Linked DNA regions of Homo sapiens. The protein of the gene in region 4 purifies or fractionates together with the protein of the main gene of each other region. This does not show direct contact. Each region holds a gene or a part of one and is shown on either strand. Other genes may lie near its edges. The genes, in order: GIT2, SHROOM3, PLXNC1, KLHL4, BOD1L1 and VPS13D.

Region 1 (3,532 bases), on a different chromosome or scaffold from region 4:
TCCAAGGCGGGTGGGTTACTTGAGGCCAGAAGTTCGAGATCAGCCTGGCCAGCATGCTGAAACCCTGTCTCTACTAAAAATACAAAAAAAAAAATTGGCTGGGCATGGTGGCAGGCACCTGTAATCCCGCTACCCGGGAGGCTGAGGCAGGAGAATCACTTAAACCTGGGAGGCAGAGGTTGCTGTGAGCCGAGACCATGCCACTGCACTCCAATCTGGGTAACAGGGCAAGACTCTGTCTCAAAAAAAAAAAAAAAAAAAAGTGCTCACTGTAAAATTATTTAAATTTTTCTTTATTAATAAAGTCCTTGAAAAATAAATCTATAGGTTAGTCTTGAATATCATTTAAATGGCCAAAGATCAGTCATCTTTCCTTCTTTTTCCAAAGTACTTTTATTAACTGTGAAGCACAATACTCTGTTCCACAGAGGATAAAATGGGTGAATAACAAAACTCTGCCTTCCCAGAATTTACTCTCTTGGAAAAGATGATTCATAAATGCCTGAAAGAGTTCAAGGAGGCAAGACCATATGGGATTCATTGCCAAAATAGATAATTGGTCTTAAAAAGCATATATAGGGTTTCTTCATTGTGGTCCAAATCATTTAAGAAATTTCTTCAGCTGGTCTTGAAGAATGGGTTGGATTTGAATGTGTGAAGGGAGAGCTGAAGCATTCCAGGTAAGAGGAAAGGCAGGAGTCAAGATCAGGAGGCAGGGAGGGACAAAGTGTGTTCAGCACAGCAGGAGACCTGACTGGAAAGAACAGAGTGGGTCTGGGAATAACAGCAGGAGTACAGTATTGCATGGTGCTTCATTATTTCACAGAGCACTAAAAAAGAAAAGAGTTCAGCCAATTAAATTATGGTGTATCATCAATTGTAGGACATTTCCTGATTTCACAGATACTAAAAAATGAAAATAAGATGTGCCTCTCACAAATCAAAGCTGTGTGGTAGGTTGAAGGGTGTTGTGAGTGCCTTGAATGGTGGGGAGAGAAGCTGGCTGAAACTATCAGGTTGGTGCAAAAGTAATTGCAGTTTTTGCCATTACTTTTAAGGACAAAAACCACAAAATATACTTGATCTTGGACGAGAGCCCTGGGTAAATGATACTTATTATCACTTACCTTGGAATTTTCGCACTTGTACCTTGCATATAATAATCTCAATATAATTTGTATCCTTGTTGCTGAAAGGATTCTAAGCAGCCTAAGTATTTATTTCATGGATGTTGAAAGGTAAACTTAATATTTTCTGTTGTGCAAATTGAAGATAAGGAGGCAGAAGTAGCTGCAGGCGTGAGCTGTGCGTTAGGTTGGCGTGTCTCTCACTGATTTGAAGCCTTTGAAGTGGTTACTAGACTCTTATCCAGAGTCAGACTGGCTGCATCAGCATCACCTAGGGGAAGGACCTTCTTCAACATATTGGCCCCTGGCCCCATCCTGTCCCCATTGATTCAGAATTTCCAAGGGTGGGGCCTGCACATGGTATATTTCTAGAAATGCGCTAGTTAATTTTTGAGAACTTCTACCGTAAACCATTGATTAATTTCATTTTTTTACCTCATTAAATTAAGTCATTCTGTATCCTTCCCTCTCATAAGTCTTTGAATTTCTTATTAAATATTCTATTTTGGCCTTAATAAAGGAAAGGCGATAGTTCAGATGGTGAAAACAGTTTATAAAAGTGGGATGCAAAGTAGACTTCAGAAATCTACCTACCACAAGAAGGTTGATGATTCTCAAAAGTCTTGTGTGATAAACTGCTCAGGTGTCTCAGGAGACGTCTTTGTACTCCATTTTAAAGTCAGTGAATAGTGAGCAATATAAATGGTACTTTGTTTTCTCTTGGTAGGCAAGGAGGGCACCATGAGCTGGCAGAGCGCCTCGTGGAAATACAGTATGAGCTAACGGACAGACTAGCCTTCTATCTCTGTGGCAGGAAACCAGGTGAGTGGATGGAGAATGACCGTTTCACATCTCCAGTTGGGAAGGTTCTAGAAAAACAAGTTGGGACACTATTTGTTATTACCTCCTCTGCTGTAACATATCACTGAGAAAGCTATACATATGGCTTTTAATTTGAAAGGATAACTACAGAATTGTCAGTTACATGTAAAAGATATAAAGTTGGACAAAACTCCTTAGATTTTTCATTTTTAATAGCTCTAGAGAAATGACTATTTCAAGAATCAGACTGAATAATCAAAGCAAAATTGAATGGGTACCACAGTTCTTGAACATGGTGGGACTAGGAATGTAGGAGCAAAGCAATAACCTTTGTAGTTATTTGAAAAATTCTTCTTAAGGAATGGAAAAAAAGTCCAGAAGTAAACTTTGCCAAAGCCAACTTGGCTATTTGTGATAGGGAACAGGGGTCAGCAAACCATGGTTTGTAGCCCAAATCTAGCCAGTTACTTGTTTTATTAAACAAAGTTTTGTATCGTGCCACTGCACTTCAGCCTAGGTGACAGAGTCAGACTCTGTCTCAAAATAAATAAATAAAAATAAATAAATAAATAAATAAAGCTTCTGCCGGGTGCAACGGGTCATGTCTGTAATCCTAGCACTTTGGGAGGCCGAGGCAGAAAGACTGCTTGCACCTAGGAATTCGAAAGTAGCCTGGGCAAGAGGGGTGAGACTCCGTCTCCACAAAAAAGTTTTTTAAAAAATCAGCCAGGCATGGTGGTGTGCGCCTGTAGTCCCACGTACTTGGGAGACTGGGACTTGAGCCCAGGAATTCAGGGTGGCAGTGAGCTATGATTGTGCCACTGCACTCCAGCCTGGGTGCAGTGACAAAGCAAGACCCCCAACTCTCTAAAAAATAAATGAATAAAGTTTTATTGCAAGAAAGCCGCGCCCAATTATTTATACCTTGTGTATGGCTGCTTTCACATAACAACAGCAGAGTTGAATAGGTTAAGTCGTTGCAACAGGCCAGATGGCCACAAAGCCTAAAATATTTACTATTTGGCCCTTTAAAGAAAATATTGGCCAACCCCTGATGTACAACATTCACATACATGTATGCAGTGATTCTCCATCCTGGTTGTATGATAGAGTTAAGAGCCTCTGGTATAGTTTCAGTTCTGGGTGAGATGGAGTAAGCACACCCCACCGTGTCTCCTGCAAAATAGAACTAACAGACCTGGACCAAATGCTTGGAGTAGCTAGCTAAAGACTCTGAAAAGTAAATCCTGGTTGGTAGATTAGGGAACTCAAAAGTGTCATCAGCTGGTGGTGAGTGTCCTGTTTGTCTTACTTCTGATAGGACTTCAATGACAGCCTGAAACCTGGAGGTACATAATGAGTGCAAAAAAGCCTTTTTCTGCGGGGTGCGGTGGCTCACGCCTGTAATCCCAGCACTTTGGGAGGCTGAGGTGGGCGGATCATGAGGTCAGGAGATCCAGATCATCCTGGCCAACATGGTGAAACCCTGTCTCTACTAAAAATACAAAAAAATTAGCTGGGCATGGTGGCAGGCGCCTATAGTCCCAGCTACTCGGGAGGCTGAGGCAGAATTGCTTGAACCC
Region 2 (3,532 bases), on a different chromosome or scaffold from region 4:
GCATCAGAGAGAGAGGTGGGCCCTTTATTCCATCATCTGCATCTATGTATAATAAAGGAAAAATAAAGGCATGAGAAGAGCTAATTTGGTTCTTTGCCATCTTCTTCCACCACATGCTGCATTCTGTTTGCCTGGCACTTGGATGATCTTGTGGCAAGCCCTGTGTTATTGCTCTGATGTGGGACTGAGTCACCACTCCCTCAGAGGAGTCAGATCTGTGAGATGAAATGTGCCATCTGCACTCCAGATCCACTCACATAGCCAGTCAGGGAACTGCAGACAGGGAATGTACAAATCACGGTGGGTTTGCTGGAGAGCTTTTTATCCTCACATTAACTCTTGCATAGCAGGTAGTGCCACAGACTCTTTTTTCTGTTTTGTTTTGTGGATTTTTCTCCTTTAGAACACAATAACAAAAGTTTTGCGAATTGTTGGGTTTTTCCTCGGAGTCTAGCGTACAGTTGTTTAAATCACCATGTACTATATTTGCTTATTATTGCCAGCCTCTTTCTCCAGAGGTAACTGCTTATTAGCTCCTTAGGTGAGACTCTCCCCCTCCTTTTTATTTTTCATCAGATGAAATGAAAACACTAGGAGAGTAAGCAAAAGTTGTAAATAAAACCTTCAAATTCAGCAGCCCATGCAAATGCTTTCAAAACAGACCTCCCCCGTGGGGATCGCACTGGGAGAGAAGAAGGCAGCATTATTTTTCCCCAGAGCTGGGAGCTATTTCCTGAAGTAGTCCTAAAAGGGGCTGAAGAAATGTACTGTTTGTTTTTATAGCCTGAAGCCTGTCCTCAAAAGCTGCCTTATGTTGCATGGTGTGTACAGGATGTGGGGGCGGTGAGAGGGTTAATAAAAGAAAATGCCTTGTGAACCCAGTCATTCCATGTGACATTTTCCTGTAGGAATTTATGCCTGCCTAGTACTGGTTTAACTTGGGTCTTCCTGTGAGCAGCCAGGGAAGACAGTGTGCAGTTTCTGGGGGAAGGAAAAGAGGTCCTCCTTCCTCTTAAATGCTTTTCTCATCTATGTAAGGAGCATTGGGCTGCATGTTTGCCCCTTTCTTCAGAGCTGTAACCCTCCTGTCTGTGTGCCGTTCCAGGTCACTCAGTTGTTCAGAAAGAGGCCAAGAAGAGATGCTGCCGCTCTTCCACCATCTCACCCCTCGTTGGGGTGGTTCAGGCTGCAAAGCCATTGGTGATTCCTCCGTTCCTAGTGAATGTCCTGGAACCCTGGACCATCAGAGGCAAGCCAGTAGGACACCCTGCCCCAGGCCACCACTGGCAGGAACGCAAGGGCTGGTCACAGACACCAGGGCTGCACCCCTGACCCCAATTGGCACCCCTCTGCCTTCAGCCATTCCCTCTGGCTACTGCTCACAGGACGGTCAGACAGGGCGACAGCCTCTCCCGCCCTACACCCCTGCCATGATGCACAGAAGCAATGGTCACACCCTGACCCAGCCTCCCGGTCCAAGAGGCTGTGAGGGCGATGGCCCAGAGCATGGGGTAGAAGAGGGAACGAGGAAGAGGGTCTCGCTGCCTCAGTGGCCACCTCCTTCTCGAGCAAAGTGGGCCCACGCAGCCAGAGAGGACAGCCTTCCTGAGGAATCCTCAGCCCCTGATTTTGCAAACCTGAAGCACTATCAAAAACAGCAGAGTCTTCCAAGTTTATGCAGCACTTCTGACCCAGACACACCTCTTGGGGCCCCGAGCACTCCAGGGAGGATCTCCCTCCGAATATCTGAGTCTGTCCTGCGGGACTCCCCGCCACCTCATGAGGATTATGAAGACGAAGTGTTTGTGAGGGATCCGCACCCCAAGGCCACGTCCAGCCCCACATTTGAACCTCTTCCCCCACCCCCACCTCCTCCACCGAGTCAGGAAACCCCGGTGTATAGCATGGATGACTTCCCTCCACCTCCTCCCCACACTGTATGTGAGGCGCAGCTGGACAGTGAGGATCCCGAGGGGCCACGCCCCAGGTGAGTGAGCAGACTGGGCAGCTTTCCCCCACTAACAGGAGAGTGTCATGCCCCAGGTGGCCCAGGTCCTTCTGCTGGCCACAGAAGAACCCTGGCATGGAGATGTTTCTATACAGCTCAGCTCAGGACACTGTTGATCTGTTTGCCTCAGGAGGTAGTTGGACCAGTGTCATTGGGTACTGAGGAGTCAGGGTGGCAGAAATGAAAGCTGGGACCCAAGGGGCACATTTCACTTCTGGGGACAGGATAGGCTTAGGCGGTCCAAGTAAATCCCTCCTCCCTGGATGAGTTCTGAATCAGTTAGGAAATAAGACAAAAGAGGAGGGCATATAGAAGACAAAAACATCACTTTTATTACTGACAGAGCTAACATTAAAGAATATGGCTTCAGATTGTAAGTGGGTCTCTTGATACTGAACCCCCAAGTTAAACAGCTTTACCTACCTCATCAAAGGTCATGTTAGACACACAAATACACATAGATATTAATATATACAGCCTTGAGGCAGCCTCAGTCTCAAAAGAGAAGAGAGACTGGGATGTGAATGCTCAGCTTCTCTTTCCAAAATCACTCCATGTCCATAGGGAGGAATAAAGAGTAGGGCTCAAGGTCAGTAATGTTTAGGGAAAACCTCTTGGAAGCTAGGAGAATGAGAAAGAAGCATTCCCCAACACATAGTCCCTAGAACAAGTAATCTCTCAAAACACCAAAAAAACACATTGCCTGACAGCACCTTTTGAGTGGCTTTCTTTAAACACCACAAGAGTGACTTACTACCACTACCCCTGTTAACCTAGACCTTTCAGAAATCTCTGGAATCTAACAGCAACATTCACCAGAACTGAATTCCTAGTCCATCTTCCTCAGGAGATGACAACCTCCTGACCAGCTGCTGGGCTCAGGAGCCCCTTTAGAGTGCTGTTGTTTTCTAAAGAAGGGGTTGATCTCAAATGTGACTATCTCACCCTACTCCTATGTATATATCTATGTATGTTTGTGTGTCTAGCATGACCTGTGACTAGGTAGGTAAATGTTTTTAGTTTCGGGGTTCAGTATCAGGAGACCCACTTATAATCAGAAGCCATATTCTTTAACATTAGCTCTGTCAGTAACATGTGGAAGATGTGGAAAGCTACAGCCCTGATGTGGAAAGCTTCTCCCTCAGTCTTTCTCCACCCTCTTATCATCACCCTTCTCTTATCACTCTCTCTTTCTCTCTCTCTCTTTTTTTTTTTTTTTTAAATATCCCTGGCAGCTTCAACAAACTTTCTAAAGTGACAATTGCAAGGGAAAGGCACATGCCTGGTGCAGCCCATGTGGTAGGTAGTCAGACACTGGCTTCCAGACTCCAAACTTCTATCAAGGGTTCAGAGGCTGAGTCCACACCACCCTCCTTCATGAGCGTTCACGCCCAACTTGCTGGGTCTCTTGGTGGGCAGCCAGCACCCATCCAGACTCAAAGCCTCAGCCATGATCCAGTCAGTGGAACTCAGGGTTTAGAAAAGAAAGTCAGTCCTGATCCTCAGAAGAGTTCAGAAGACATC
Region 3 (3,532 bases), on a different chromosome or scaffold from region 4:
AATACAGTCCCATTCTGAGGCACTGGGAGTTAGGGCTTCAACATACATTTTATGGGGACACATTTTTTGGGGACACAGTTCAGTCCATAATAGTAAGATAAGGAGAACTGAAATTTCAAAACCAAGGCTCTAGCATGACATCCCCCACTCTAGGACCAATTCCATTCTCCATATAAAAGGAGACATTGATGTGGCATGCCCCATGTGCCTGGTGTGTTCATCTATTGACTAGGTTAATCCTCACAACAAATTTATGAGATCTGCTATGGCTTGTCCCTTTTGCAAATGAGGGAACTGGGGGAGGAAAAGGGTTCAAACAACTCACCCCAGCCTCCCAGACAGCTGGTACTAGGAGGTTGGGCTCTGAGCCACAGCAGTATCCTGCTTTGCTATAAAGTAAGAGGCTCCCTACTGTTCTGTCACCTGCGACATTCTGAGCCTGTGTGTCTTGGCTGCTCCTTGGTCACTGTGCCTTGAGCAAGAATGTGGCTCTAAATGCTGGCCATCGGGAGATCACGCTTGGCTCGGTTTTCTGGTAATGGCTACAGACTGGCATGAGGCCAACTCAGCCCTTCCCCATTGTGGCTGGAGGATTCAGAGATCAGTGTCTTCTCTCTGCCCTACACAAATTGGGTTGCTCAGGCCCACCTCCTGGTCTTGTCATCAGGGGCTCAGCTGGCTGTTGGACCTGACGTACCCAGGCTCTTGTCCCCTAGAATGAGTGTCTGGTGACCTACGTGAACAGGGGTGCAAGGGCAGACAGAGCTGTGGACAGCTGTTTCTTTCACACCCAGTGACCGCTTTGCTTATATGCACTGAGAAACGTGAAGTTATTTGGCCTGGTTTTAGAGAGATGGAATGCAGCTGTTATTTATACGGCGTACCAAATAGGAATTTACACTTTGCATGTCATCTGTAATTCTACCTTGCCCAAAGTGTTTCCTGTCTCTCTAAATAACATACCATTGGTAGGTTAGGAGTTTGATTTTGAAAATTCTTAGATTGAAGTCTCTTTATATAGATTAAACAGTAATCAAACAAAATTCTGTTTAGTGAAACCTTTTCAAGGTACAGCTCCTGATCTGATTATATGTGGCGATATGACACAAACAAAATTCAAATTCCATCAAAGAATCTGGGCATTTTCCTAGAATTAAAATAGGATCTGACCTGAATTTTTATATTTATGCATCTTGAAACCCATGAATTTGTGGCTGGTATCCTGAAAAGATTCCCAAAATTGTCCTGTATTTGAAATTAAAATTCATTAATTTGCTCTCAAACATAATTGGGTTTAATATTAAACATGAATAAATTGATAGCTTTGTTCATAAATGCAAAATGCCTGTGTGTTAGCTATGAAACCCTTATTGTTGCTTTTATTCCTTGCAGTGGTGGTCAAAATATAACCATGATGGGCAGAAATTTTGATGTAATTGACAACTTAATCATTTCACATGAATTAAAAGGAAACATAAATGTAAGTCTCCAGCTGCTTTGTAATAATAGTTGTTTTCAAGGATGGTTCTATTTTCATCACACTATGCTATGTTGGGGGTATTTTTTGTTTCTGTGACTTTGGTGTTATAAACTTTTACCTATGCTATCATATATTCTATCCATGCTAGAATGGAAATAATAAGACCTTATCCTTGTAGCTGAGTATTTCTAGTTGCAGCAATGAGGAAAGAGAAATGAACTTGGTACGATAAGACCTGACATTTTCTTTTTATGTGATTTGTGGCAAGTCACCCTAATGAGGCAATGCTTATGAATATGTGTGAAAATGCTCCGTGAATGGTTAAGGTGTGATATAAAGAATTGCATTTCTGTGAAGAGTAGGTGGTATTGTTCCCATTGCACAGAGAGAGTTGGGTTCACAGAGGTTAGATGACTTGCCAAGGTCCCAGAAATCTTGTCATGTGCTTCTCCTTCTCTTCGACCCAATTTGTTCCCTACCATCTGATGTCACCTTCTCTTACCTTTCGTCTCCCCACAGGAGAAATGGTAGGAGGGGTCTGGTTTCCACCTTTGCCCGATTCTCCCACTGGTGCCTCCAGATGGGGATCCTCTAGAGCAGGGGTGTCAACCTTTTGGCTTCCTGTGGCCACATTGGAAGAAGAATTGTCTTGGGCCACACATAAGATACACCAACACTAACGATAGCTAATGAGCTAAAAAATGGTTTGTGCATAATTTCCGTGATATCCACCACCACAGATAAGCAAAAAAGTCCTCACATTCAAAAGGCTGGACACGGCTGCTCTAGATGGAAGCTTCTGATGCCAAGAGGGGAGATGAGGGATTTCACATACAAGTCAGGCCTCCAAGTGTACTTGCACACACTTCTAAATATCCTTCCCCATTCTTTCTTCCCCTTTTTCCCTCTCCTTGATGAGATATGTGAGGTGGCTGCCTCTCTGGGGCCCTGCCTGACCACTTCCTGCCAAGGCTGACACACTCCCTCCTCAGGAGCAGTGTGGGTTCAGACCCAAATTCCGGGGGCCGCCTGATAGGCCGTCCTTACAGCCTTGTGGTGCACACATTCACCTGCTGACACAGTTCAGAGCCACTTCCAAGCCTCACACTGTATCTGACTCCAGGCCTCATCTCCATGGTGTGAACACCTCCAGTTGAATGGCTCGTATAGTTTGACCCTCTGAGCAGAGGCATTACCTGAGTTTGTCACGGACTTGCTCTCCCTCCTACTTGCTGTTCCCAAATCAAGTTGAATTTTTTGAGCACCTACTGCAGGCAAAACATTTTGCTGGGTGCAGGGACAAAAGATAAGTGAGATAGTCATATTGCCTTCATGGAGGCAGGCAGCAAATCTACATTGGGATTGAAAGTTGAGGCTGGGTGTGGTGGCTCACGATTATAATCCCAGCACTTTGGGAGGCCAAGGCGGGAAGACTGCTTGAGGCCAGGAGTTCGAGACCAGCCTAGGCAACATAGTGAGACCCCCATCTCTATAAAATAAAAATTAAAAAAGTTGACAGCACAGAGTATCATCAGGTTCTAGGTCCTCTGGTTCCCTAACTGTTCAGAAACCCTGTGAGTCCAAGAAGACACCATTTCTTTTCACATTAAAGAGAAATTAAACATGCATGGGATTAAGTACGCCTGCAGTATGGAGTGGGGTGGGTGGAAGCAGGGAGGTGAGTTCAGGTACAGAGGACAGAGTCCTCGCAGGCCCGTGCTGGGAACATCACTCAATCCTGCTTAGTGGGAACCTAGAGGGTGGGTCTGGAATGACCAAGAGCGATAGCTGTAAAACTGAGCTGGGGCCACAAAAAGCAGCGTCAGACTGAAAACTTTGCCCTTAATTCTGTAGGCAGCAGGGAGCCACTGAAGATCTCTGAGCAGGAAGTGACATAGGTCTAGGTACACTGGACTCACACTGGACCGAGACAATTAGTGACAATGAAAGCAGTCAGAAGGTTACCAATGGGAAAAGAGACTATGCAGAAAGCAGTAGACTAGGGAAAGGGGAGGATTCTGACCCAAAAGGCTTCGGTGTCCTGTCTTGAGT
Region 4 (3,997 bases):
AACCATAAAGTCAAACTAAAAGCAAAATCTTACAACTTCAGTGTTCTTTCTAGTCATACACCAGTATAATTTCCCCTTTATCACCTGTATGCATGATATGAGAACTGGATAAAGTACAAACTGAATTTCAAAATGTCAATGATAAATGCATTCTTGATACATGACTGTCTTTTGTAAACATGTCCATCTGTACAAAGTAGTGATTATGATTCAGATCTCAAAGTACTTTGGGCACAGTTATTCCTGAACAGTGTGATGATTTGGAATTAATTCAAAACATACTCTGTTCATCCTCTCATAAGGGTTTTTGAACAAAGAAAATAAACCTTTAACACTGCCTGTGAAAGTAAAAGGCATGATAAGAAGGTTTGTATCCAGGCATGGAGCCAGAATGAACTATTCATTTTCAAGCTGTGGTAACTGAGAGAAGACATCTCTTTTAACCTAACTAGCTTGGAAAAGCACTGCTTTCTTCCTCCATATGTAGACTAAAAATACCATTTCTACATTCCCAAATGGCGTGTTTGTGTGAGTGGTCATGGGTAACCAATACTTTCTTACATGTTTCTAAAATCTGTCAAGTTTTCAGGTAAATATTCATATAGAGACTTTCACATTTTCAGATTAATTTTGTAAAAACTAATTACGAACCCGCATGAGGGTACTGATGCTTTCCCTTAATGAACCATTTTCAAAGTTTCCATAAAAGGAATCTCAAAATAGATTATAATGAATTCCTCTGTCGCATATTATCATGGAACAAAGTGGCACATTTTTAGAAGTGGGCTACTGAGAAATGAATCTAGCAGGGGAGGCGTGAGTAGAAGGAATCTAGAAGAAAATAAGTTTAAACACTTCGCTTTGGCTCACTTGCCTGGGTTTCAGCTGCAGCTACTGTACTTTGATACTGAAGAAGCAGGGCTAGATATTTGCAAGTCCAAGCAGGAGGGCTGCAAGCCTGCAAATCTAACAGCTGGAGAGTGTTGTGGTGGCTGCTTTCCTGTGGTAAGCTGATTTACTTGTTTAAGGTCTGACCTCATCATCCTGTCAGCATGGGTTCCCACCTACACTGTTAGCTGCAGCCTTCTGCTTCTGCTAGAAGGCTACAAGTATTCACAGTGTATCATAGGCAGTGGGGGAGGGGAGAGAAAGCAAGAAAGACTGCTCTCGGCACTTGTGCTTTTGTTAGTTCTACAGAAGAGGCAGAAAAACAAGAGATAACAAAGGCTCCGTTTCCTTTCTGTGAGAGAAGGCTTTTGTCTTTCCTCCTGCTACGATGTCAGTGTCTGGCAAGAAAGAGTTTGATGTGAAACAGATCCTAAGGCTACGCTGGAGGTGGTTTAGTCATCCTTTTCAAGGTTCCACCAACACTGGAAGCTGTCTTCAGCAGGAAGGATATGAGCATAGAGGGACCCCGGTTCAGGGCAGGTTGAAGAGCCACTCTCGGGACAGAAACGGACTGAAGAAAAGCAACAGTCCTGTCCACCACAATATACTGGCACCAGTGCCAGGACCGGCCCCTGCCCATCAGAGAGCCGTTCAGAATTTGCAGCAACATAATCTGATAGTACATTTTCAAGCAAATGAAGATACTCCTAAATCAGTTCCAGAGAAGAATTTATTCAAAGAAGCTTGTGAGAAACGCGCACAAGATTTGGAGATGATGGCTGATGACAATATAGAAGATTCTACAGCAAGGTAAGAGTTTTTGGTCGCATAACTGAATGCCGTAACTTCAGTTAACTTATCCTCTACAATTCATGTTTAGTGTTTAAATAGAAAGTGTCATAATAATCTCTGAGTTTGTATTCAGCCAATCAGAGTCTCTCAGAAACCGTCTCCTCTAAGTTTATAAAAGAAAACAGCAATAATGAATACGTCTTTATAATTACCGGAAATTTGGGGGGTGGGTTATGAGTTTACTTCTCCTATTTTCATTAAGAATTCTGTTTCAATTCTAAGAGATGTTTATTGTAATTACTAATGTTCTATAAATACACTCCGTGGCTCAGATGTTTAAATGCAATTCTTTGTGCAAGTGTTATGAATCACGGAGAACTCTTTCTGACATTGTGAGTTAGGCCAACTTTAACAAAATAAAAGCTGTGACTGATCAGCACATCCTTATCTGTTTCCTTAGTACATAGTTGCGATATTGACTCTTAAAACTGTGTTATCTTTATGTGACAATATGGAATATTTGGCGTTCGGAGACTCATTTCAAGTTGTATTACTTTCATAGCTAGTTTTTGCAAGCATGAAAATATTCTACATAAAGCAGGTAATAAGATGCTACTTACAGCAATGTGATCTTAAAGCGGGAAATGGAGCATTTCAGCTTTTACATAAAATGAAAATTGAATAAACAGTGACGATATAGTGTAGTTTGGGTATAGTTCATAAAACATTTGATTTTGTCTTTACTTTTATGCCCACCGGTATTGTTTGAGTGCAAGAAAATTACATTCTGTTCTCTAATACTGTCAACTATAACTTAACCTAGTGTATCCTTATCTCTTTGTTTTTTGCTTTTTCACTATCAGACATTTTTATAGTCCCAACGTGTTTTAGACACAGTTGATAATATTGGCAATGTAATTAATATTCAGTAGTACTATAGAAAAATAAGTGTTTTTATGCATTTTAGATCATATAGTAGTTCAACATGCTAATTTATTTGGAAACCTGGATATCTGGCATACTATGTCTCTACCTAAAAATAGAGAAGAAGGACTGGCAGATTTGCTTCTTAATATAAGTTTTCCCAATAAAACAACCTCACAGTGTCTTGCTTTCATAAATTCAAAACAGTTTATCAGAAGAAGAAGCAGCCTAATAACATTACAGCAAAATGATGCCTTTATAGGAACTCAGTCTTGTTGAAATATAAACATGCAGAAGACTTTGTGAAATGACATTAATAATAATGTTAGATTGTCTGTCATATAAACTTCTCAGGAAATAAAGCACGTATGTGTGAAATTTTCCTAAATATTTTGTGCTTGCTCGTGGAAAAGCTATATAACTGTAGGGATTGCAGGTTGCATTTGGTACAACAAATAAGACTCTCAAAGTAATATAGAGTCCATAATTTTAAATTCAGCAGGCTTTCAAATTTGTTCTCGTCACCAAGAACAATTTTTAAAAAACTGCTGAATTTGGAGATTAATAAATGAATTTAACTCTGCTGTAGGGAAATTTAAATTACCAACTGTAACTTTGGAACAAAATTATTTGAGAATACATGAATTAATTTTCTAGTATGGGAATATTTACAATAAAATAGATGTTAGAAAAAATGTTAGGTAAAATGTCACATTTAAAGCGTCATCAAGTGACAGTTTAAAAAGCGCATTTATCCTTTGATTTTATTCCTGACATTTTTTATTTTCTAAAGAAATGCCTTGTTAATTATTCTATGGTTTCATTGGAAAGCTAACGTTTTCTTAATATACATACAGGAAATGGTTTTATAGGTGTGCCAAGGATATCTTAGGCAGGAGGGGCTAAATTGAAGATCTTATTAATTGAAATACGATGGTTTATTACCTTCTCCTTAACCATTCTAAATCTTCCTGTCTTGGTCCAGCATCATTTGAGAAGGAGCTTTCTGATGCCTTGCTTCTCCAGTGCCTCTCTTCTTGAGCAATATTGAGGAGCAGGAAGAAAAGATCCCAACAAGTTGGCAGCAGGCTGCCATCCCCTCAATATGACTCCAGTGGTTTTTTAAAAAAGAAAACAGTAGTGAGTGTGGAGAATTATCATACTAGCACAAGATGAGCTATGACGCTCAGAGTAAAGTAAGGCTCTTTAAGCCATCCAGATTTCTACAAATATTATGGGGAATAAATAGAGAATGGACTAAATTGCAAACATACAATATAGCAGAATAAATCACAGTTAGTCCTGGAAGGGATATTAAAGCCAACATTGTTAAAGTTATGTTGACATGTTGGTTTGGAAAGTTAAAAATTCAAATGTATTCATATGAAATTGA
Region 5 (3,532 bases), on a different chromosome or scaffold from region 4:
CACTCCATTTCTAGAGGCTGTCTCCCAACACTGATGTTCTTTCTACCTTTCTTCTATACAGCTTTTAATGTGGATGAGTTTGAGTGTCCCTGACTGATATTAAGCAAGCACTGTATAGCCTCACCTTCTGCCATTTGCCTCCTTTTAGCTTCAAAGTTTACACTCCAGTGAGAAATTCTCATATCTGCACCTACCATCCTGCAACTACCATTCCCTCTGGTTGTCCATCTGACAAACTTCTCACCTTCAGAGCTCACCCTAATCTGTGAAATCATCTTGACACCGAAGGTAGGCTTATGGGCTCTTCATCCACGCTCCTACTGTTTTCTATACATGCTACCATTCGAGCAATTCTTGCACTACATTGTATTTTCGGAAGCAAGGCATATTTATCCTCCATTGATGTGTAAGCCTCCTCCTCTATCTCTCTTACAATTTGTTTTCATATAGCCTATCACACTGCTTGGCAAATGAGCAATTAAAATATACTTGTTAGCTGAATGGGTAACTATCTCTAACACAGAATGACAAACATTTTATCCCTCTGATGCCCTTTCATCAGTTCCAATTTTCAGGCCTTTGCTGATACTTATTTCCTGTCCTACATGATCATTTCCTATGTGCCTGTCCATTTATCCAAAATCGATATGAACTAAAATTAATTCTTTTTTTTTTTTTTTTTTGGCAGAGTCTTGCTCGATTGCCCATGCTAGAGTACAGTGGTGTGATCTCGGCTCACTGGAACCTCCACCTGCCGGGTTCCAGTGATTCTAGTGCCTCAGGCTCCTGAGTAGCTGGGACTACAGGCATGCGCCACCACACCTGGCTAATTTTTGTATTTTTAGTGGAGACAAGGTCTTGCTATATTGGCCATGTTGGTCTTGAACTCCTAACCTCAAGTGATCCACCTTTCTCGGCCTCCCAAAGTGCTGGGATTACAGGTGTCAGCCACCATACCCAGCCCTAAAACTAATTCTTAATTCTTTCTCCCCAATGATTCTAAAGCCTAATTCTTCTTTCCGGTATTCCCAAATCTAACACACATTCATTAGGCTCTAACATCACAATGCATTTGGCATTCTAGTCTAGTCTTCCCAGAACAAGTTCAAATCTGAACTACTCAACAGGTAATTTTCCTTGTTTTCAAGCTCTCCTTTCAGTAAAAAGTTGAGCAACTAGAGAAATATTAAGTATTCATTGAGAAGTATTCTCCTAGGAACATGTATGTACCCACATGTACACATATATACACACACACATATATTACACATACTTCCACCCTTTCTTCCTTTTCCAGTGCTTTGGTGAAAAGCCTTAGAGTTATCCTTGAGTCCTCCCTTTGTCTTCTACTTCACATGCATACTATTAGCAAATTCTCTCAACAGTAGCATGAAAATACACCCAGAATCTGACCACTTCCCACTACCTTTACTGACCTCAATCTGTTCCAAGGCATTCTCATCTGTCTGAATTATAACAACTGGCCTCATGCAGAATTCTATCCTTACCTACAACAAAGTTGTCTTCTAAAAATCAGGTAACCATGTAATTTATTGACCCATTCAAATCACAACTTAGCAAGAAAGGGGAAGCTATTACACGTGGTCAACCCATCTGAAATGGAAGTCAGATCATGTCCTTCTTTTGCTCAAAACCTGCCAATGGCTTCTGAGCTCGAGTAAAAGCCAAGGTCTTCTGATGGCTCCCAAGACCTGCCAGATCTGTGAAGGCATACCTACCTCACCTCTTGTCACTTTCCCCTTAGTGGGTCTGTCTCAGCTCTTCTATACTTGCTATGCTCTCTTCTTGGAATGCTCAAGCCCCAGACAGCTGCATTGCCCCTTCAATTCCTTCACAGATGGCTCAAGTATCATCACATTGAAACCTACCCTGAACAGCTTATTCGAAATAAAACAGTAAGCCCATCCATCCCTCATCTTGCTTTTTTCCATAGGACCTACCATACATTACTTGTTGTCTATTTTTTTTTTCTACTAGGATGTAAGCTCCATAACAGTGGGATGTTTGGTTCACTGCTGTATCCCTGGCACCTAAAAAAATGACTGGTACATAAGAGTTGCTCAATGAATGTTTGTTGGGTGAATAAATTGACCAGGGGCCATTTATAACTAAGAAAGTGTCCAAAAAATCAGACTTTCTTACTTGACAAGAGAGGTACCATATTTACCTGGCTGGCGAGCTCCCTGAAGGGCCTCTTGATCATCCCTCCTCACACGCTCCAGATGCTAATCAGTGCAAAGGAGACAGAATGGCTTTGTAACCACTAAGCTTGCTCCAGAGATCTGGAAACTGGTAGTCTATAACGGAGGAGTCTTTGCAGTAGTTGGAGCTTAGGGTTGCCCATGGTTCCATTTCTTTGGGTGGGAAGGGCTGATTTGGTCTGTTACAGTCAGATCTCTCTCCTGGTTAAGGACTATCAATGACCCTGGACAGTTTGGAGGGGGGTTCTATGGTCTTCTGGTGTAGCAGCAGACTTTGGTACTTCTCATCCTGGTTTAAACACACTAAACTGGATGACAGTTTTGCTCTTAGCACCTGGCAGGTATCAAATGTCTTCATTCTTAAATATGCATGTGACAGACATAATCCACTATAACTCTATATGCTACAAGTTAAGACTTTTTGACAGAAAGCAGGTCAGTCTTTGAGGTTCAAGTGGCAGATGAAACTCAAGGATTCCATTAAAGTGATGGTTCTTTGCATGAACAGGGAATCTTCTACTTTGGCCCACTCATCATATTGATATGAATGTTATGTTCTGATGAAGAAAACTTTGGCTTTTTGGGAAGCAGGGGGGAATATATTTTTTTTTTTTTCAAATAAGAAAATGAAGTATAAAATGGTATTCAATGAGAACAAATCTTTTAAATCAAATTAAAATCTACCTAATTGCTAACTAAGGGAGTAGAAGAGAAGGAGAGAGTCATGGGGTAAAGGAAGTACCAGAACATAACCTGTAACATAACCAGGAGCAGGTACAGAGGTTAGTGGCAGGGAGGGGGAGAGAGAGAGAGATTTTGTGGGAGAGTTTAAGCTAGCGTCTGAGCACCAGAACTTCAACCATAGCTGAGTGTTCTTTTTTGTCTGGGAGGGTGTCATTTCAGTTCTAATTTCTCAAAGCAACAGAAATATTAGAAATTTTCATAATTATTAAATAGTATATGCAACTGTATTGAAAAATGTGTATTGTTGCTTTTTAAAAATTTTTGTTTTTTAGACCAAGTCTTGTTCTGTCTCCCAGGCTGGAGTGCACTGGCACAATCTCGGCTAACTGCAACCTCTGTCTCCTGGCTTCAAGCAATTCTCCTGCCTCAGCCTCCCGAGTAGCTGGGACTACAGGCATGTGCCACCATACATGGCTACTTTTTTTGTATTTTTACTAGAGATGGGGTTTCACCATTTTGGTCAGGTTGGCCTCGAACTCCTGACCTCTAATGATCCACCCACCTCGGCCTCCCAGAAGACCAGGGTTCTGTGGTCTTCTGGTGTAGCAGCAGACTTTGGTACTTCT
Region 6 (3,532 bases), on a different chromosome or scaffold from region 4:
TCTTTTTTTTTTTGAGATGGAGTCTCACTCTGTCACCCAGGCTGGAGTGCGGTGGTGTGATCTTGGCTCACTGCAACCTCTGCCTCCCGGGTTCAAGGGATTCTCCTGCCTCAGCCTCCCGAGTAGCTGGGATTACAGGTGCCTGCCACCATGCCTGGCTAAGTTTTGTATTTTTGGTAGAGACAGGGTTTCACCATGTTGGCCAGGCTGGGTTTGGACTCCTGACCTCAGGTGATCCACCTGCCTCGGCCTCCCAAAGTGCTGGGACTCCAGGCGTGAGCCACCACCCCCGGCCTCTTTCATGAATTTCATTCAGACAATCTCTTACGGCATTTTCTGTCTTAATCTAGGATAAGGTTTCTTAACATTGGCTCTGTTGACATTTGGGTTGGATAATTCTTTGCTGTGGGAGCTGTCTTGTGTGTTGTAGGTTTAGCAGCTTCCGTGGTCTTTATTCACAAGATGCCAGTAGCAGCCCCTAAGTCATGATAAAAAATGCCTCCAGAGATTACTAAATTATGCCCATAGGAGAACCTCTGATCACGGCAGTCTAATCCCAAGGTAAATCAACATAAGCAAGCAATGGACAGTTACACTGAAAAGATAGACAGCTTTGAATTGTAGGTAATTTTTGGTAAATTTAAGAGTGACTATTCCCTGAAGCAGCATCAGAATGTAGGTGTTTTGGTTTGGCCCTCCAGTTACTGATGGGGACATCTTACAGAGCTTCTTGCCTCATCTTTTAAAACATCTGCAGCCGGGCGCAGTGGCTCATGCCTGTAATCCCAGCACTTTGGGTGGCTGAGGCGGGTGGATCACCTGAGGTCAGGAGTTTGGGACAGGCTGGTCAACATGGTGAAACCCCATCTCTACTAAAAATACAAAAAATCAGCTGGGTGTGGTGGTGGGCAGCTGTCATCCCAGCTACTTGGGAGGCTGAGGCAGGAGAATCGCTTGAACCCGGGAGGCAGAGATTGCAGTGAGCCGAGATTGTGCCACTGCACCCCAGCCTGGGTGACGAGAGCGAAACTGTCTCAAAACAAAAACAAAAACACAAACAAACAAAACCCAACAAAACATCTGTGCTTTGCATTCATCTACCTTCAGGCAGGTAGAGGAGGAAATTGGCTTAGAAAATCATCCTGTTTTTATGTTGATTTTCATTATTTTCCTTTCATAGATTTTTCTGTGACCATGAAAGAGAGAAATAAAGAATGATCCATGATTTCTAAACACCTTTTCCTGAGGATATAGTCATGTTGGAAGGCCTTGTAGCCTGGGTTCTCAATACCTATTTGGGAAAATATGTCAATAACCTGAACACTGACCAGCTCTCAGTTGCACTTCTCAAAGGTGAGTATTTCTCTGGGTGAGATACAGCTTTATAGGTGGCGTTTCTATTTTTGTATTTTTTTTGTTGTCCTGAGAATCATAAAACCTAATGCCCAGATGGCTTTGTACTAAATGTATGTAAAAAGGTCCCATATCATCCTGATGATTTTTCCAGAGTAACTTAAGTTTATAGCTATATTGTTGTAGATTTTAAGGAACTATTAAATATTAAAAAACAAAAACAAAATAAGCTACACTACTGGTGACTGTGCTTAGTCCCAGTTAACTTTTAGCTTTATGAAGCTTTATGGAGGCAGCCACAATGTACCGACAGTGGCATTGACTTTGGCTTCAAATACTGTTTTGTCACTTATTAGCTATGTGAACAATAGCTCATATTGAAATTCCAAGCCTCAGTTTCTTAGACAGAGATAATATACCTCCAGAGGGTTGCTTTAAGGATCAACTGGAATAACATTTAAAGCCCCTAGCCTGCTGGCATATAGTAAGCACTCAATAAAAGTTTTAAAATTGATTATTGTGAGGTGTTCAACAGAATTTCTGAGGTTTTGACTTGCTTAGTAGTAGAGTACCTGAAGCTTCAGACATTTTACCCTTTACAGGCCTAGACTTGGTAAATGCAGTCCCTGATTTGGCATGGGAATTCGAAAACTGCATTTTCTCCCTTTCCTTGTTTTAATTTAAATTCTCTTTGCTCAGCTCAAAATGGAGCTTTTTAACATACGTAGGGAAGAGAAGAAAGTCAGTTTGCCACGTGTGTAAAATCATAGGAAATGGGAAGGAGACTTCAAATACAGTGAAACCTCACCTTTGTGGATGTGAGTTTTGGTAAGTGGACCAGAGCAGGTTAGAGAGAACAGTGACACAGCTGTTTGCGTAGTCTGAGAATAGAGTACCGGTGGTTCACATGTTCCATTAAATGTGTTGCTTTCCGGCCAGGCGCGGTGGCTCATGCCTGTAATCCCAGTACTTTGGGAAGCTAAGGCAGGCGGATCACGAGGTCAGGAGTTTGAGACCAGCCTGGCCAACATGGTGAAACCTGTCTCTACTAAAAATACAAAAATTAGCTGGGTGTGGTGGCGGGTGCCTGTAATCCCACTACTCGGGAGGCTGAGGCAGGAGAATCGCTTGAAACCAGAAGGCGGAGGTTGCAGTGAGCCGAGGTCACACCACTGCACTCCAGCCTGGGCAACAAGAGTGAAACTCCATCGCAAAAAATAAAAAATAAAAAAAAAGTGTTGCTTTTCATGTTTTTCTGACCAAATGATTGTGGCAGCGCTAGGCCATGGGCAGAGCCGTCATGGTCACGCCTCCCCACTCTCTTCCTTTCCTTTCCTATTCTCCTGGTTTTCCTCTTGTCCTGAAACGGGAGCTAAGTGGAAAGTGCGAGTGAGCAGTCTGTCAGGGAAGAGGATGCATTCAAAGTGCAATAGTAGTGTCAAGTTCACCTCTCTGGTCTCTTATTGAAGTTCTCAGACCCACTGTGAAGCTAACTACGTTGTATGACGTATAGATAACAGGGCCTAGAAAGAGAGCTGCAGACCACGACCCTGCTAATCAAAGAGCTGGTTCTGTCAGGAATCATGTGGCAAGAGCATTTGCCAAAGAAATGAGTAAATAGAAATGGATATCTGATGTGTTACAGAGTCGTACTAACATTTCTCAGCAGTTTTAGAATGTATCTTGTAACAACTGTGTTTATCTGGTACTTTAAACTGCTTTTCTGCCCTTATTTCCTTTCTAAAAACATTATTCTTTATGGCTTTTAATGAACCTGTGGAACTTGAAGAATGCTTCTCCGCAGGGTAGAACAATGCTTTTTCTTTTGTAACTGGTGTTAGTATGGTACCCAATGCTTATGGATCCAAAGCACATCACAGAGCGTGGCCAGAACAATCTTGGGGGCATGGAATTGTACTGAGGGAATGGCTTCGTAAAGAAGTTGGTGCTGCTTGTTCGTCTCTGACACAGTTAAGCAGTGTTTGGGAATAGAGAGGGTACTAGATAGGAATGAGAATGTTCTTTCTTTTTTTTTGAGACAGGGTTTCTTTCTGTCACCCAGGCTGGAGTGCAGTGGCGTGATTTCACCTCAATGCCACCTTGACCTTCTGTGCTCAAGCAGTCCTCCTGCCTCAGCCTCCCAAGCAGCTGGGACCACAGGCATGCACCACCACGCCCG

What was found.
Region 1: the proteins of KLHL4 (region 4) and GIT2 purify together in Homo sapiens (affinity purification with western blotting; one study listed by BioGRID). This does not show direct contact.
Region 2: the proteins of KLHL4 (region 4) and SHROOM3 purify together in Homo sapiens (affinity purification with mass spectrometry, with the first as the bait; one large-scale study listed by BioGRID). This does not show direct contact.
Region 3: the proteins of KLHL4 (region 4) and PLXNC1 purify together in Homo sapiens (affinity purification with mass spectrometry, with the first as the bait; one large-scale study listed by BioGRID). This does not show direct contact.
Region 5: the proteins of KLHL4 (region 4) and BOD1L1 purify together in Homo sapiens (affinity purification with mass spectrometry, with the first as the bait; one large-scale study listed by BioGRID). This does not show direct contact.
Region 6: the proteins of KLHL4 (region 4) and VPS13D purify together in Homo sapiens (affinity purification with mass spectrometry, with the first as the bait; one large-scale study listed by BioGRID). This does not show direct contact.

What each region holds. Positions count from the first base shown.
Region 1 is NC_000012.12:109,979,369-109,982,900, reverse strand, and holds part of GIT2 (ARF GTPase-activating protein GIT2), read left to right. Parts: intron 1-374; exon of another isoform or gene 375-830; intron 831-1,721; exon of another isoform or gene 1,722-1,854; coding exon 1,855-1,949; exon of another isoform or gene 1,950-1,996; intron 1,997-3,532. UniProt on the Homo sapiens protein: GTPase-activating protein for ADP ribosylation factor family members, including ARF1.
Region 2 is NC_000004.12:76,753,206-76,756,737, forward strand, and holds part of SHROOM3 (protein Shroom3), read left to right. Parts: intron 1-1,105; coding exon 1,106-1,987; intron 1,988-2,317; exon of another isoform or gene 2,318-3,243; coding exon 3,244-3,532. UniProt on the Homo sapiens protein: Controls cell shape changes in the neuroepithelium during neural tube closure. Induces apical constriction in epithelial cells by promoting the apical accumulation of F-actin and myosin II, and probably by bundling stress fibers.
Region 3 is NC_000012.12:94,242,546-94,246,077, forward strand, and holds part of PLXNC1 (plexin-C1 precursor), read left to right. Parts: intron 1-1,392; coding exon 1,393-1,480; intron 1,481-3,532.
Region 4 is NC_000023.11:87,516,618-87,520,614, forward strand, and holds the start of KLHL4 (kelch-like protein 4), read left to right. Parts: upstream 1-1,184; 5' UTR 1,185-1,276; coding exon 1,277-1,698; intron 1,699-3,997.
Region 5 is NC_000004.12:13,621,202-13,624,733, forward strand, and holds part of BOD1L1 (biorientation of chromosomes in cell division protein 1-like 1), read right to left. Parts: intron 1-3,532. UniProt on the Homo sapiens protein: Component of the fork protection machinery required to protect stalled/damaged replication forks from uncontrolled DNA2-dependent resection.
Region 6 is NC_000001.11:12,233,011-12,236,542, forward strand, and holds part of VPS13D (intermembrane lipid transfer protein VPS13D), read left to right. Parts: intron 1-1,180; 5' UTR 1,181-1,256; coding exon 1,257-1,353; intron 1,354-3,532. UniProt on the Homo sapiens protein: Mediates the transfer of lipids between membranes at organelle contact sites. Functions in promoting mitochondrial clearance by mitochondrial autophagy (mitophagy), also possibly by positively regulating mitochondrial fission.